Linked DNA regions of Homo sapiens. The protein of the gene in region 2 purifies or fractionates together with the protein of the main gene of each other region. This does not show direct contact. Each region holds a gene or a part of one and is shown on either strand. Other genes may lie near its edges.

Evidence for each region.
Region 1: the proteins of TMEM168 (region 2) and GTF2IRD1 purify together in Homo sapiens (affinity purification with mass spectrometry; one large-scale study listed by BioGRID and IntAct). This does not show direct contact.

Annotation. Positions count from the first base shown.
Region 1 is NC_000007.14:74,554,816-74,558,634, reverse strand, and holds part of GTF2IRD1 (general transcription factor II-I repeat domain-containing protein 1), read right to left. Parts: intron 3,462-3,819; coding exon 3,412-3,461; intron 3,243-3,411; coding exon of another isoform or gene 3,198-3,242; coding exon 3,141-3,197; intron 997-3,140; coding exon 913-996; intron 1-912. UniProt on the Homo sapiens protein: May be a transcription regulator involved in cell-cycle progression and skeletal muscle differentiation. May repress GTF2I transcriptional functions, by preventing its nuclear residency, or by inhibiting its transcriptional activation.
Region 2 is NC_000007.14:112,773,368-112,777,186, reverse strand, and holds part of TMEM168 (transmembrane protein 168), read left to right. Parts: intron 1-1,868; coding exon 1,869-2,011; intron 2,012-3,819. UniProt on the Homo sapiens protein: Plays a key role in maintaining the cardiac electrical stability by modulating cell surface expression of SCN5A. May play a role in the modulation of anxiety behavior by regulating GABAergic neuronal system in the nucleus accumbens.

The DNA.
Region 1 (3,819 bases), about 38 Mb from region 2:
CAGCATTTTGGGGAACCAAGGCAGGAGGATCTCTTAAGTCTAAGAGTTCGAGATCAGCCTGGGCAACACAGCAAGACCCTGTCTTTACTAAAAATTTCTAAAAACTAGTTGGGCATGGTAGTGCCCAGTGGGGTGTAGTTCCAGCCACTTGGGAGGCTGAGGCAGGAGGATTGCTTGAGCCCAGGAGTTTGAGGCTGTAGTGAACCATGATCACGCCACTGTACTCCAGCATGGGTGACAGAGTGAGACCCTGTCTCAAAAAAAAAAAAAAAAAAAAAAAAAAAAAAGAAACGAAAGAAAAAGCCACACCAATATGCTCCCATGTCATATGCTCCATTTTTTTTTTTTTTTTTTTGAGACGGAGTTTCGCTTTTGTTGCCTAGGCTGGAATGCAATGGCGCGATCTCAGCTCACTGCAACCTCCCCCTCGCAGGCTCAAGCGATTCTCCTGCTTCAGCTTCCTGAGTAGCTGGGACCACAGGTGTGCACCACTGCACCTGGCTAATTTCTTTTTTGTGTTTTTGGTAGAGATGGGGTTTTGCCATGTTGCCCAGGCTGGCCTCGAACTCCTGAGCTCAAGTGATCCACCTGCCTCAGCCTCCAAAAGTGCTGGGATTACAGGCAGGAGCCACTGTGCCGGGCCCTTGTCTATTAAATTCTGTGTGTAGTTCTTGAAAGTGTATCTCACCTCATTGGTCTGCAAGGCTCATGAGTACAGGGACTGTGTCTGTTTTATTCACAGCAATATCCCCAGTGCCTGAGACAGTGCCTGGCACGTAGTATATGCTCAAGAAATACATGTAAAGGGGTGAATTGTTTCCCCAGAAATGCCCTCGGCTGGAACTGGGAAGCCTCCCACTTCTCTGTGCACAGCAGCTGCGTGTCCCTCCCCGGGGGTTCTGCACTGCTTACCGTATTTCTTATTGAAAAGGTCCTGGACCTGCTCCCTTAGTGTGTTGGCGATGTCGATCCGTGAGAGCCTCGCGTCATAATTTTCTGCAAAGCGCAAAACGATTATGGGTTTGGGCTGTTGAGTGAAAAAGCACTTGGTGACTTTTAAGGAAGATGATTTTCTAATTATGGGGAACTCCTTCTCCGGCAATTAAAGGATCTTTGGAGTGGGCCCCTCAGGTCCTTCAGCACCGACATGTTGATGGAGATGTCTTTTTTTCAGAAGGACATGCACTGTTGCCACAACAGTGATGAGTTGGAAATTAAGTTAATTGATGACATTTGAAAACCACCAAACCAATAAATAAGCCCCGGAGGGGAGGGACACCATAGAGTACGGAGTCCTGTGCCCTGGGCTGGCAGGCAGGGGGCGGGGGCTTCATGAAGTCACTAGGGGGCTGGAGACAAGCGAGGGAATGGAAGCCCAGCTGATCTAGCAGATGGAGGAGGATGGGCAGTCCCCACAGACACAGGGGATGGGCCTGGCGGCTCCCAATGGAACCTCCACCTCCCAGGCTCAGGCGATTCTCCTGCTTCAGCCTTCTGAGTAGCTGGGACCACAGGCGTGCACCACCGCACCTGGCTAATTTCTTTTTTGTGTTTTTGGTAGAGATGGGGTTTCGCCATGTTGCCCAGGCTGGCCTCGAACCCCCAAGCTCAAGTGATCTGCCTGCCTCAGCCTCCAAAAGTGCTGGGATTACAGGCATGAGCCACCAAGACACCCTCACCCAGAAAGTGTTCATTAAAAACGCCCAAGTGTGACCGGGCGCGGCGGCTCATGCCTGTAACCCCAGCATTTTGGGAAGCTGAGGCAGGAGGATCACCTGAGGGCAGGAGTTGGAAACCAGCCTGGCCAATGTGGTGAAACCCTATCTCTACTAAAAATACAAAAATTAGCCAGGCATGGTGGTGCGTACCTGTAATCCCAGCTACTTGGGAGGCTGAGGCAAGAGAACCCCTTGAACCTGGGAGGTGGAGGTTGTAGTGAGCCAAGATCGCACCACTGCACTCCAGCCTGGGTGACAGAGCAAGACTCTGTCTCAAAAAAAAAAAAAAAAAAAAAGCTGGGTGCAGTGGTTCATGCCTGTAATCCCAACACTTTGGGAGGCTGAGGTGGGCAGATCATCTGAGGTCAGGAGCTCGAGACCAGCCTGTCCAACATGGTGAAACCCCGTCTCTACTAAAAAATACAAAAATTAGCCGGGTGTGGTGGCACGTGCCTATAATCCCAGCTACTTGGGAGCCTGAGGCAGGAGAATTGCTTGAACCCGGGAAGCGGAGGTTGCAGTGGGCTGAGATCACGCCATTGCACTCCAGCCTGGGCAACAAGAGTAAAACTCCATCCAAACAAACAAACAAAGACAAGTGCCAGCATGTGCTGGAGGGATCCCAGACCACCATCTCTCTCTCTCTCTCTCTTTCTTTTTTTTTTGAGACAGGGTCTTGCTCTGTCACCCAGGCTGGAGTGCAGTGGCATGATCTCGGCTCACTGCAATCTCCGCCTCCCAGGTTCAAGCGATTCTCCCGCCTTAGCCTCCCTAGTAGCTGGGATCACAGGTGCACGCCACCTCGCCCAACTAATTCTTGTATTTTTTTGGTAGACACGGGGTTTCACCATGTTGGCCAGGCTGGTCTTGAACTCCTGGCCTCAAGTGATCCACCTGCCTCGGCCGCCCAAAGTGCTGGGATTACAGGCGTGAGCCACTGCACTCGGCCTCTGATTTCTTTTCTTAAAAATAGACATAGAGACGGGTTCTATGTTGTCCAGGCTTGTCTCGAGCTCCCAGCCTCAAGCGATCCTCCCACCTTGACCTTCCCAAGTGCTGAGATTACAGGCGTGAGGTGCCGCGTCTGGCTCCTATTCTGATTTCAAAGCACTAAGACCACAGCTGATTGCTGAAAAAGGAGTGGGCGTGTCAGCTACCTCTGGGGGGTGGGGCAGGGAGGGGGCAGGCAGGCTCCTGGGCTCCCCCGACCGTCCACCTGTAGGCACCCCCTCTCCCCTGGAGTCTCTAACACAGAGCTGGCAGGGTACAGCCGGGCCTGGGCTGCCAACCTGGCTTGCCTGGTCCCTTAGGCCCTGAAGTTGGGGGCCAGCTCCTCCCCACTTCCAGCCTGGCCCTCCAAACCCAAACCAGGTCAATGTCCTGGTGCTGGGACAACAGACCTCCCCGTGAGCTCAACCTTACCTTGAAAGCCCTGTCTCTTCAGGCTCTCGTCCACCAGAGGGTCCCCGGAATCCCTCTCTGGGGGCAGGGCAGGGGGAGAGAAGCCAAGTGAGGAGGCAGTTCCTGGGACCCAAGATGGCATCGTTAGGGGAAACCCAATGTGGGGGTGTGGGGAGAATGCCAGGGCCAGGATGGGAGCAGGACAGAGGCAGCAGGAGGAGGGGCTGGTGGCAGAGGCCTGGGGCCCTCCCTTGCCCGCCCACACCATGGCTCCCGACCCCGCGCTGGGTACCTTGACTATCCATGATGGGCTCTTTGACTCCCTCAGTGAGCAGCTCGGGCCTGGAAAACACAAGCGAGGCTATCACAGAGGTCCCTCCAAGCATCTCTGGGACTGCTCAGCCCTCCTCTCTGGGCCTCAGTCTACACAGCCCTGCAATGGACCCTTCTGGCTATGCATAGTTCAGGCCTGGAGTCCCTGCCGCCCCACATGTGGAATCTGGGGGGCTGCGCTGGGCTTGAAGGATCCAGCTGGGAGTGAGACCCCCCCCAGTCCTGAACAGGTCCATCTGATATCTCACTCCTGCTCCAGGGACATTGCACGATTGTCACTGCCTGGGATTGGAGCAGGTGGCCTCAGGTGGCCTCCCGTGGAGCTGGTTTAAAGTGTAGAAACAAGGTCAGGTGCAGTAGCTCACGC
Region 2 (3,819 bases):
TTTAACAAGGCATAAAGTGACTATATTATAATTAAGAACTCATGTTAAGCAAAAAACAGCATTAAGGTAGTCACAGAGTCACCAACAAAAGACTTTCATTGAAACTATGTTCAGAACCAAACAAAACTAAATCAGTGAAGAAAAGGTCAACCCCATAGAAAGGTGGGCAAAATATTTAACACTTCATCAAAGATGATACCCACATAGTGAAAGGTACTTAACCTCATTAATAATCAGAACTTGATATTTATTCTAGTTTTGGTGTAATGGCAAACTGTAAGCAATTTAAATACCAATAATGGGATCCACTAATTAAAGTTTTATATGTATCATAGGAATGCCATTTGGTCTTTACAAGTGATTTAGAGTAATGTAAGCTTAAATTAAAATGTTGATAGATTATGTATCCCATTTTGGTAAAAAAAAAAAACATACACATGAATATGTATTTGTGAAAAATACATTGCATGAAGTCTGGGAATATTTCAGAGTAGCTGTGCGTATAGATGATGGTATTTGGAATGATTTTAATCACATATCTTTTTTACTTATTTGTATTTTCTAGTGTTTTTAAATGGAGCATGTACTGTGTTATTTATGTCATTGACAAAATAGGATGTACCAAAATAGGGCAGTATATTCATTTTTCTATTGCAGGAATTAATTTTTTTATTAAATTTTGATCAAGTGAACCACCCCTTAGTGTTAAAAGTATGTGTTCATGCACCTAGGCATATAGTATGTGCAGTAGCAATACCGGAAGAATGTAATAGTTTAATATTCTAAAGAAATGTTCAAGTGACTATCCATTTTCTTTTCACTTAAATGAGTCTTAATTTTTTCTGCTTTTTCATTGCAGTTAATACCTGATTGCCTCCTCCTTATTTCTTCTGCCTGTCTACTTTCCATTCTGCTTTTACAATGCTTATATGTCCTTAATATTTTCTTCTGTTAAATTTTGATTGCACATCTAGAGAGTTCAGTGCTTTATAAGGTAAACTATATCATATAAACGGAATTCGTTTTTATAGCTTTAGGGTCTTAAATTTCCTTAAGAACTTATACAGAAAGAAAGTAATAGAGAAAGAATACAGAAAGCATATAGAAAAAAGTAATAGTTTAATATTCTAAAGGTATGTTCAAGTGACTATCCATTTTCTTTTCACTTAAATGAGTATTTTTTCTGCTTTTTCATTGCAATTAATACCTGATTGCCTCCTGCTTATTTCTTCTGCCTGTCTACTTTCCATTCTGCTTTTACAATGCTTACGTGTCCTCAATATTTTCTTCTGTTAAAATTTTGAATTTGCACATCTAGAGAGTTCAGTGCTTTATAAGGTAAACTATACCATATAAACGGAATTAGTTTTTATGGCTTTAGGGTCTTAAATTTCCTTAAGAATTTACTTTCATAATTTCATGGGGAAAAAATGACCCCTTTCTAAAGCACTCTTTTTGATAAAGTAAATAAATCTGTTATTTGAAAAATGACATAGGCATGTGGGTTTTAACAAGATATTTGTTTTCTGGCATTTTCTCTGTTATATCAAAGAGTGGTTTTGGTTTGTTTTGTTTTTTTTTTTTTTCTCGTCTGGATAGGATGTTATTTGACAATTCTTTTTTAAAAATGATGTGCCGTGTTTTGCCACAACTTCCAAAAAACTAAGAGATAAATTTAGGATTTATTGCACTAGTTAGCTCATCCATGTATACGTGTCTGCTTTAACTGAAAATTGTTTTTAGATCATTAATTGTTCCTTTTATCCTTTTTGAAAGTAGAAGCTAAAAAATGTGAATCAATGTGCATGCATGTAAATATATACACATATGTACATGTACTATGTAAACATGTTTTGGATTTCTTTTAGCCAACAAATGGAATTTTCTTGAGCATGTTTCTAATCGTTTTGCCATTGGAATCCATGGCTCATGGGCTCTTCCATGAATTGGGTAACTGTTTAGGAGGAACATCTGTTGGATATGCTATTGTGATTCCCACCAACTTCTGCAGGTACAGTAATCTAGTATAGTTAGTGATAACTATTCACTTCATAACATTTTCTTAATATTTATATGAATAAAATATAGCTCCTTTTCAAAACTGTTTTCAAAATATAACTTGTGCATTTCTTCCAAATTTTTAACAAACTTTATTCCAAGTGATAATATCTTCAGAGTTAAATTGAAATATTTTGATAAATATGATAAGCTTATATTTTAGCTAGAAACCAGAAAATATTCATGAATAACTTTTCTAAGGAAAGATCTTACCCTAAAGGGAATATTTTGTTAAGAAAGTGTCCTCTGGCTGGTCGTGGTGGCTCACACCTGTAATCCCAGCACTTTAGGAGGCCGAGGCGGGCGGATCACCTGAGGTCAGGAGTTCGAGACCAGCCTGGCCAACATGGTGAAACCCCATCTCTACTGAAAATACAAAAATTAGCCAGGTGTGGTGGCAGGTACCTGCAATCCCAGCTACTCAGGAGGCTGAGGCAGGAGAGTCACTTGAACCTGGGAGGCGGAGGTTGCAGTGAGCTGAGATAGGGCCATTGCTCTCCAGCCTGGGGGATAAGAGCAAGACTTCGTCTCAAAAAAAAAAAAGGAAAAAAGCAAAAGAAAGTGTCCTCTGAAGCAACATAGTGAAATATAGTAAAACGTGCTCTGGGCCTGAGAGGCTGGAGGTCTAGTTCTTTGTTACCTTTGGTACACTATAACTACTCTGAACCTTATTATCTGTCTTTGCCTAAAATGTATATAGTGATAACTCTTCTGTTCATCTGACAGGAATGGTATGAAGCACTAAAAAAAAAAAAAAAAAAAAAAAAAATGTAAAAACACTCTGCACACTGAAAAATGCCATACAAATACTAGGAATTCAGAGGATTGGCAGTGAAGTTTAATAAATGTTTATTGCAGTTTTATTCCAAAATAACTTTTACCCACAAAGGTGGTGACATCTGTATAAATCTGTAAATGTTGCTACATTTTGATTTTTATTTTATAGCTAACTACCTTTAAAATAATTCTTTGCCATAAATGAATTCTGATGACAGTTTTCATCACACTTTCCCTGGGGGAGAGGAGAGTGGAAGTAAAGTTTTTTCCCAATTTCAAGTATTTGACATAAAAATCTCCAAATAGACTATTTGTAGGAAATATTTTCCTTCGTTAAAGACTTAATACAAAGTTGAAGGTTTAAGAACTGAAGGAAACAGATTTGGAAATGTCACATAAAGTGAGAAATGACAACCTTGTAGAAAGAATGTGTGGAAATAGTAATATGCACAGTTAGATATTTATTCCATTGTAATTTTTTTAATGTATTCCTTACTCTTTTGTGACTGTAATGAAAAAAAGTTAGTAGAATAGTACTGATGATATATGAAGCAAAATCTAACGTTTTCAAAAATCCCGATAGAAATCCCTTTTCTGGATAGGAATGATGATTTTTTCTTTCTCAATATTAATGGTATTTTGCTAGTTATAAGACTTGCTTTATCATCTTTGTACTAGAGTACCATTTTATATTTGTTCTAGGAGTAAATCTAAGTCTTCAACTAGTGTCCAGTGGTATAAAGCAATGGACCTAAATTTTAATAACTTTTTAAATGCCTATTAATAGATAATTTCTTCTATTATTTATGTACCTTAAGTTAATAAAATTTGAACACAATTTTATTGACTATTTTTCAATACAGAAGTAAATATATAATTAAAATATTGCTTTTTTATTTTGTGTTATAATATTTTTAAAGAAGTTTTTTTAATAGTCCCCACCCAGATGTTCTTGAAACAGTGTAATCCTGCTTTTAAAAAACC